2 linked regions of the Homo sapiens genome follow. The protein of the gene in region 1 purifies or fractionates together with the protein of each later gene. This does not show direct contact. Each region holds a gene or a part of one and is shown on either strand. Other genes may lie near its edges. The genes, in order: PARL and CCDC92.

Region 1 (3,814 bases):
CCGCAAGTCCAACCCAGCTGCAAGGAATAGGGAAGTTGACTCCAGCTTTGGATAAGAACTACAAAATATTGTGGCCATGGTGTTTTATCTACCACACTAGATGTGGCAGAGGCAGTTATGCTTCCTAGTCTAGAGCAGTAATTCTCAATTCTGGCTATACATTAGAACTGCCTGGTGAGCTCTTAAAAGTCCTACACCATGGCTCTACCTCATAACAAATGAGAATGTCTAGGAGTGGACCCAAGGCCTTAGTAGTTGTAAGACCTCCCCAGGTGATTCTCATGTGCCGCCAGAGTCAAGATCTATTCATACCACAGGTTTGGGGAAACTTTAGTTTACATACAAATCACCTGGAAATCTCATTAAAAACATTGTAATTTAGTAGGTCTGGGGCAAGGTGAGTCTGAGATTTTGCATATCTAAACAAGCGCCTAAATTAGGGGTTGTCAAACTGCGGCCTATAGAGTGGATTTGAGTCTCCAACTAAGAATGGTTTTCACACGTTTAAAGAGTTGTTTAAAAAGAAAGAGAAAGAATATGCGACAAAGACCACATGCGGCCATATTTTCTATCTGACCTTTTACAAACTAAGTTTGCCAAACCCCTGTCCTAGATGATACCCAAACTGCTAGTTCATGAACCACTTGGAATAGCAAGGAGCTAGAACCTGATTCCTCACTCTTCCAACAATACTTGTACTTAAATTAGAATGGTTTGTTGTCCCACAGATTAATCCTATCTAGGTAACCAAATAAAGAATTCCAATACAAATGTTTCACTACGACTTACTCCCAGCATCCATGCCCTCTTCTCCTTTTCCAAACCATACTCTAGAATTTCCAGCCATTTCATTTGATGAGACACACCAAGCCCACGATTGGCTTAAGCCAAATTTCACATCCCATTCCTTGGCAACTTCAAGGGATTCAAGGATGGGCACCTGTCCCAAGTTAGGCCAATCTGGTCCAGTGAAATTCAATTTCAAGATTTTGTTTGTGATAACGGAGAAGACAACTTTTTTTTCTGCTAGATTTGCACCTAAAAATATATAGCCCCAAGAGCTGCTGGCAGCCATCTTATAACCACAAGGAGATAGCATGCTGAGAGAATAAAGCCAACATTTAGGAAACAGAGACAAGCCATGGAGAAAATGGTGTCTGGTGACAATTTGAGACACTGGACTTGTCTCGCTAGAAGCCAGTCCTACCTCTACACTTTTGAACTTCATAAACCAATAAATTCCCCTAATTGTTTAGGTCAGTTAAGAGTTTGGTTTTCTATTGGAATAAGGATGCTTTTAGATGTAGTATGTTTATTACATATTATATAAGGTACATTTTCTCTTTTTAATGAGCTTTCATTTTAAATTTCCTTTTTTTGGTGGGCGGGGGGAGGTCCTCGCTCTGTCACCCAGGCTGGAGTGCAGTGGCACCATCTCAACTCACTGCAACCTTCGCCTCTAGAGTTCAAGTGATTCCCCTGCCTCAGCCTCCCAAGTAGCTGGGATTACAGATGCCTGCCACCAGGACTGATTTTTTTTTTTTTTTTTTTTTTTGTATTTTTAGTAGAGACAGGGTTTCGCCATATTGGCCAGGCTGGTCTCGAACTCCTGACCTCAGGTGATCTGCCTGCCTCGGCCTCCCAAAGTGCTCCCAAAGGATTACAGGAGTGAGCCACTGCACCCAGCCTTAAATTTCTTAAAGTGTGAAACAAGCAAAAGCATGATAAATGTCCCTAATTGCAAATGTTTGCTATCTTATTCACAGGTTTAGGTTATTCACCTCTTCCCAATCAGATGGGTATATAAGACAGGGAAATAAATTACTTACCTGAATAAGTTGGAAAACAAAGTGAAGCGCCGCAATAAAATGGATGGGGATGGGAAAGAGGGTCCCTTGAGGCATATGACAACTCACGACAGCAGGCCTGCCTTGACTCTGCTGCTTTGGTCCTTCTGCCAGGAACTAGTGATTTGGGGAAGCAATCAAATGTGCTCAAAGTGGGAGGATGTCATGAATACTTAAGTTGCCACCAGCCACAGTTATAGTTCAGTTTTTTTTTTTCCGTTTTTAAGACACAGTTTTGCTCCTGCTGCCCAGGTTGGAGTGTAATGCCGTGATCTCGGCTCACTGCAACCTCCGCTTCCCGGGTTCAGGCGATTCTCCTTCCTCAGCCTCCCAAGTAGCTGAGATTACAGGCGCCTGCCACCACACCTGGCTAATTTTTGTGTTTTTAGTAGAGAGGGGGTTTCACCACGTTGGCCAGGGTGGTCTCGAACTCCTGACCTCAGGTGATCCACCCACCTCAGCCTCCCAAAGTGCTGGGATTACAGGCATGAGCCACTGTGCCTGGCCAGCTCAGACTTTTTTTTTAATACAATCCTATAACTTTTAAGAAGAAAAAGTTACACCAATATATGTGTTCACCTAATAGTTACAATACAGTCTCATAAATGTTTTGGTTTTTTATTTTTTGGGTCTTTTTTTGAGACAGGGTTGCACTCTCTCACTCAGGCTGGAGGACAGTGGCGCCCTCATAGCTCACAGCAACCTTCACCTTCCGGCCTCAAGCAATCCTCCTCCCTTAGCCTCCCACGTGGCTGGGACCAGAGGCAGCACCACCATACCCACTAATTTTTTTTACTTTTTGTAGAGACAGGAGTCTCCCTATATTGCCCAGGCTGGTCTCAAACTCCTAGACTCAAGTGATCTTCCTGCCTCAGCCTCCCAAAGTGCTGGGACTGCAGGCCTGTGCCACCGCACAGCCTTTGTGCATTTTTTTTTTTTTTTTTCAGATGAAGTCTTGCTCTTGTCCCCCAGGCTGGAGTACAGTGATGCAATCTCGGCTCACTGCAACCTCTGCCTCCTGGGTTCAAGGGATTCTCCTGCCTCGGCCCCCCGAGTAGCTGGGATTACAGGCCCCTGCCACCGTGCCTGGCTAATTTTTGTATTTTTAGTAGAGACGGGTTTTCACCATGTTGGCCAGGCTGGTCTAGAACTCCTGACCTCAGGTGATCCACCCGCCTCGGCCTCCCAAAGTGCTGGGATTACAGGCGTGAGCCACTATGCCCAGCCTGTGCATTGTTTTTAAGAGTGCAACGGTAAAGACAATACAACTTAAATATACAGGTCAGTGTTAATGTTTATGTTACTCAAGATTTGTATGAACAAATTAAGTAGAAATGGCCTAATGTTCAAATGGAGACAAAATGTGTCTAAGCACACACAATTGATTAGATTCATTCCACTTAAAACAAAATAGAGCCCGAGGCATGGTAGTGTGTACCTGTAGTCCTTGCTACCAGGCAGGCTGACGCAGGGGGATCCCTTGAACCCAGGAGTTTGAGGCTGCAGTGAGCTATGATAGTGCCACTGCACTTCAACCTAGGTGACAGAACAACTCGCCTCTAAAAAATACAAAAGATACTGGGCGGGAGGATGGATTCTACATAAACTCTGGCATAACAAAATTATTTTCTTGACCCCATCGTGAGTTAATAGATGGTCAGTTAAAACAAAATATAATATATACGATTGACTAATATGTCAAGTATCTTACTTAAAGATATTTTGAGGCTAGGCATGGTGACTCAAGCCTGTAATCCCAACACTGGGAGGCAGAGGCAGGCAGATCACTTGAGACCAGGAGTTCGAGACCAGCCTGGCCAACACAGCAAAACCCCGTCTCTACAAAAAACACAAAACTTAGCTAGGCATCATGGTGGTGCATGCCTGTAATCCCAGCTACTCGGGAGGCTGAGGCAGGAGAATCGCTTGAACCCGGGAGGCGGAAGTTGCAGTGAGCTGAGATCGTG
Region 2 (3,814 bases), on another chromosome or scaffold:
TCCCGGCTGGGTCTCCTCAGCCTAAACAGGATGCCTCGGTGGCTTCAGTCATGTCACAGTACTGGGAGCATGACATCATCACAATGATTACCTCTCTTCAGTAGTGAAGGATCGCAATGGAAAACACCACTGTCTTTTCAGCCGTGAAAACTCTTTTGCCCTCAGAAAGCCAGTGATATTGTTACTCTTTTGAGCTGATGAGAAAATAATTGAGTAATCTGGATGCCATTTGGAGATGTGTTTTGTTTCCCTGGCCCCAAGTGGACCTGCCTTATTCAGGAATATCCTAACAGCTGTAGAATGCCCTGCACAGATGGCGTCTCCATGTCAGGGCCTTTTCAGTCAGCACAGAGTGTGGAAGAAGGGGAGAGCGACAGTCAGTGAAATGCCCCAGGCCAGGAGACCCTTGTCCCCCACTGTGAGGGCTCCGAGTGGCTCACCAGCGCTCACTGTGGAGCTCTGCGCGTTACATGGTCACACTCTCCCTGCTCGCCTGCCGTTTCTTCTCCAGGCTGTCTGCCCATTATAATGGGACGCTTTAAGGACGCTTTTGTATTTCTGCAGTTAACAGAGTGGATTAATGACACACAGCGTTGTTATAATTCAAAGTTGCTGATTGACCAAGGCAGTTAGAGTATGAATACTTACTAAATCATATTTAAATTTGTTACAAATGAAATGTAATACCACACTATGATAGAGATGGCTGCTGATAACATTTGTACTCCATTCCCCTCTGCCCCCGTGGGAGAGCGTAGAAGAAAATACTGACATCTACATATAGGCACATCCCATTTTGTGCCATCATGGCGGGTGAGGTGGTCATCTCATTTCGGGATGTTTTAGTATATCCCGTTTTCTTTGAGCAAGGTGTGCCTGTAAAGGAAGTGTGTCCGGAATTGGTGGGTTCTTGGTCTCACTGACTTCAAGAATGAAGCCGCAGACCCTCGCCGTGAGTGTTACAGCTCTTAAGGTGGCGCATCTGGAGTTTGTTCCTTCTGATGTTCGGATGTGTTCGGAGTTTCTTCCTTCTGGTGGGTTCGCGGTCTCACTGGCTCAGGAGTGAAGCTGCAGACCTTCGCAGTGAGTGTTACAGCTCATAAAAGCAGCGTGGACACAAAGAGTGAGCAGTAGCAAGATTTATTGCAAAGAGCGAAAGAACAAAGCTTCCACAGTGTGGAAGGGGACCCGAGCGGGTTGCCACTGCTGGCTCGGGCAGCCTGCTTTTATTTTCTTATCTGGCCCCACCCACATCCTGCTAATTGGTAGAGCCCAGTGGCCTGTTTTGACAGGGTGCTGATTGGTGTGTTTACAATCCCTGAGCTAGACACAAAGGTTCACCACCTCCCCATCAGATTAGTTAGATACAGAGTATCCACACAAAGGTTCTCCAAGGCCCCACCAGAGTAGCTAGATACAGAGTGTCGATTGGTGCATTCACAAACCCTGAGCTAGACACAGGGTGCTGATTGGTGTGTTTACAAACCTTGAGCTAGATACAGAGTGCCAATTGGTGTATTTACAATCCCTGAGCTAGACATAAAGGTTCCCCACGTCCCCACCAGACTCAGGAGCCCGGCTGGCTTCACCCAGTGGATCCCACACCGGGGCTGCAGGTGGAGCTGCCTGCCAGTCCCGCGCCGTACGTTTGCACTCCTCAGCCCTTGGGTGGTCGATGGGATTGGGCACCATGGAGCAGGGAGCGGCACTGGTCGGGGAGGCTCGGGCAGCACAGGAGCCCATGGAGTGGGTGGGAGGCTCAGGCATGGCAGGCTGCAGGTCCCGAGCCCTGCCCTGCGGGAAGGCAGCTAAGGCCTGGTGAGAAATTGAGTGCAGCGCTGGTGGGCTGGCACTGCTAGGGGACCCAGTACACCCTCTGCAGCTGCTGGCCTGGGTGCTAAGCCCCTCATTGCCCGGGGCCGGCAGGGCTGGCAGGGCCGGCCCGCTGGCTGCTCTGAGTGCGGGGCCCGCCAAGCCCACGCCCACCCAGAACTCCAGCTGGCCTGCAAGCGCCGCCGCACGCAGCCCCGGTTCTGCTTGCGCCTCTCCCTCCACACCTCCCTGCAAGCTGAGGGAGCGGGCTCCGGCCTTGGCCAGCCCAGAAAGGGGCTCCCACAGTGCAGCGGTGGGCTGAAGGGCTCCTCAAGTGCCGCCAAAGTGGGAGCCCAGGCAGAGGAGGTGCTGAGAGCAAGCGAGGGCTGTGAGGACTGCCAGCAGGCTGTCACTTCTCAGAAGCACCTAAATAGGAAGCCCATGGAAACAAAAGCTTTTCAACCCTGAAGCCCTTACATTCCTCTGGCACCACAGCTGCACTCAACAGACTGGCACCAGGCCCATTCGTGGGCCTCCAGGGTGCCAGGCACTGTGCTAGGGCTTAGGGTGCAGCAGTGAACAATCTGGAGTCTGTGCGAGGAGGCGGGAAACAGACCCACACTTACAGACCCTCACAGAGACACAAAGACTAGAACTGGGGACAGGGTGGTAATGCACCCGAGTCTGGGGGCCAGGGCTTCCGGGAGGAAGTAAACTTGTACTGAGACCTAAAGGATAAGTAGACAGTGGAGACCCAGGAGAGGTGGGTGGGAGAGAGGCCTAAGAAGAGTGTTCTGGGCAGAGGAGGAGCCATGAGAGGGCACCAGGGTGGGAGAAGCACAGCCCAGCAGGGCACCCGGAGGAAAGCTCGTGCCACCTGGAGCCCTGGGGGTAGGAGAAGGGCCAGCGAGGGTGGCGGGGCCAGTTGCAGGGCCGGGCAGACCAGTCTGATTCTCAGAGCAGTGGGAACCATTGGAGGTTTTTAAGTAGTCTCAATTTAAAAACAAGATCACTCTGCTGCCACGTGGAGAGCAGAATGGAGCAGGTAGGAGAGGACAGAGGGAGGCTTTCTGGCAGGGATTTGGGTGAGGGTGAGGACGGCCTCAGCAGCGGAGACGGGGAGAGTTGAACGGATCTGAGAGCTGCTTTCAAAGCAGGATGCCAGCAAGATCATCATGGACTGGAAATGGATGGCGGGGGATGCCAGCGTCAAGGCCACCCCCAGGTTGTGCAGCTGGGGACAGTGCTTGTGAGGGGTAGGACACTAGGCCTAGGGCAGCTCTCCTGTCATCCAAGACCCACTAAATTCTGGATCACATTTAAATGGTTCTTTCTCTTTGACAGCAAGCCACTAACATATGGGCTCTGCTTCTTCCATCAGCCAACAGAATCCTGGATTTGAGTCTGTCCTTTGAAAGCATCTCTGCTAGAGTTCCCACTTCCAAACCCCTTTCAGCTCTTCGGGATTCAGCCTCCAGGTGAGGTGCTGGAATTGATGCCAGAGTGAACGACTCCGGATTGCTGAGTGGAAGGAAAACGTAGGCACCGCTACTGACAGCTCTCAGGCGCTCCTGGGATTTTCCTTCCTTTGACGCTGAGGCTGTTCCGCTTTCAAGCGTTCTGCTTTGTGAGGGAAGGGCAAGGTCAGAAGGTGCTCACCCTTTCCACAGCAAGCACGCGGCACACGTGTGCCACACGCTGAACCTGCCTTGGTTGTAGCTGGCTCCTTTGTTAAGGTCAGCGCCCCCCAAGACCACGTGCTGTGCAGACAGTGTTGGGATCTCGGGAACTGTGGGGTTCCACTTAGAAACTAGTGTCTGGCCCAGCAGCCTACACAGGAGAGTTTGCGGTTACAGCACAGAGACGGTTTCGGGGACAGAAACATCCTTTCTCACTCCTGCCGGAATGCTGCTCACGGCTCCACTGAGGAAAGCCCTGCTTGATGGAAACTCAACTCTGCCATCATCTGCAGCCCAGTGCGACGGCAGTCAAAGGCCAGGGA

The links.
Region 2: the proteins of PARL (region 1) and CCDC92 purify together in Homo sapiens (affinity purification with mass spectrometry; one large-scale study listed by BioGRID and IntAct). This does not show direct contact.

The regions. Positions count from the first base shown.
Region 1 is NC_000003.12:183,878,348-183,882,161, forward strand, and holds part of PARL (presenilin-associated rhomboid-like protein, mitochondrial isoform 1 precursor), read right to left. Parts: intron 1-3,814. UniProt on the Homo sapiens protein: Required for the control of apoptosis during postnatal growth. Essential for proteolytic processing of an antiapoptotic form of OPA1 which prevents the release of mitochondrial cytochrome c in response to intrinsic apoptotic signals.
Region 2 is NC_000012.12:123,945,180-123,948,993, reverse strand, and holds part of CCDC92 (coiled-coil domain-containing protein 92), read left to right. Parts: exon of another isoform or gene 1-3,290; intron 3,291-3,814.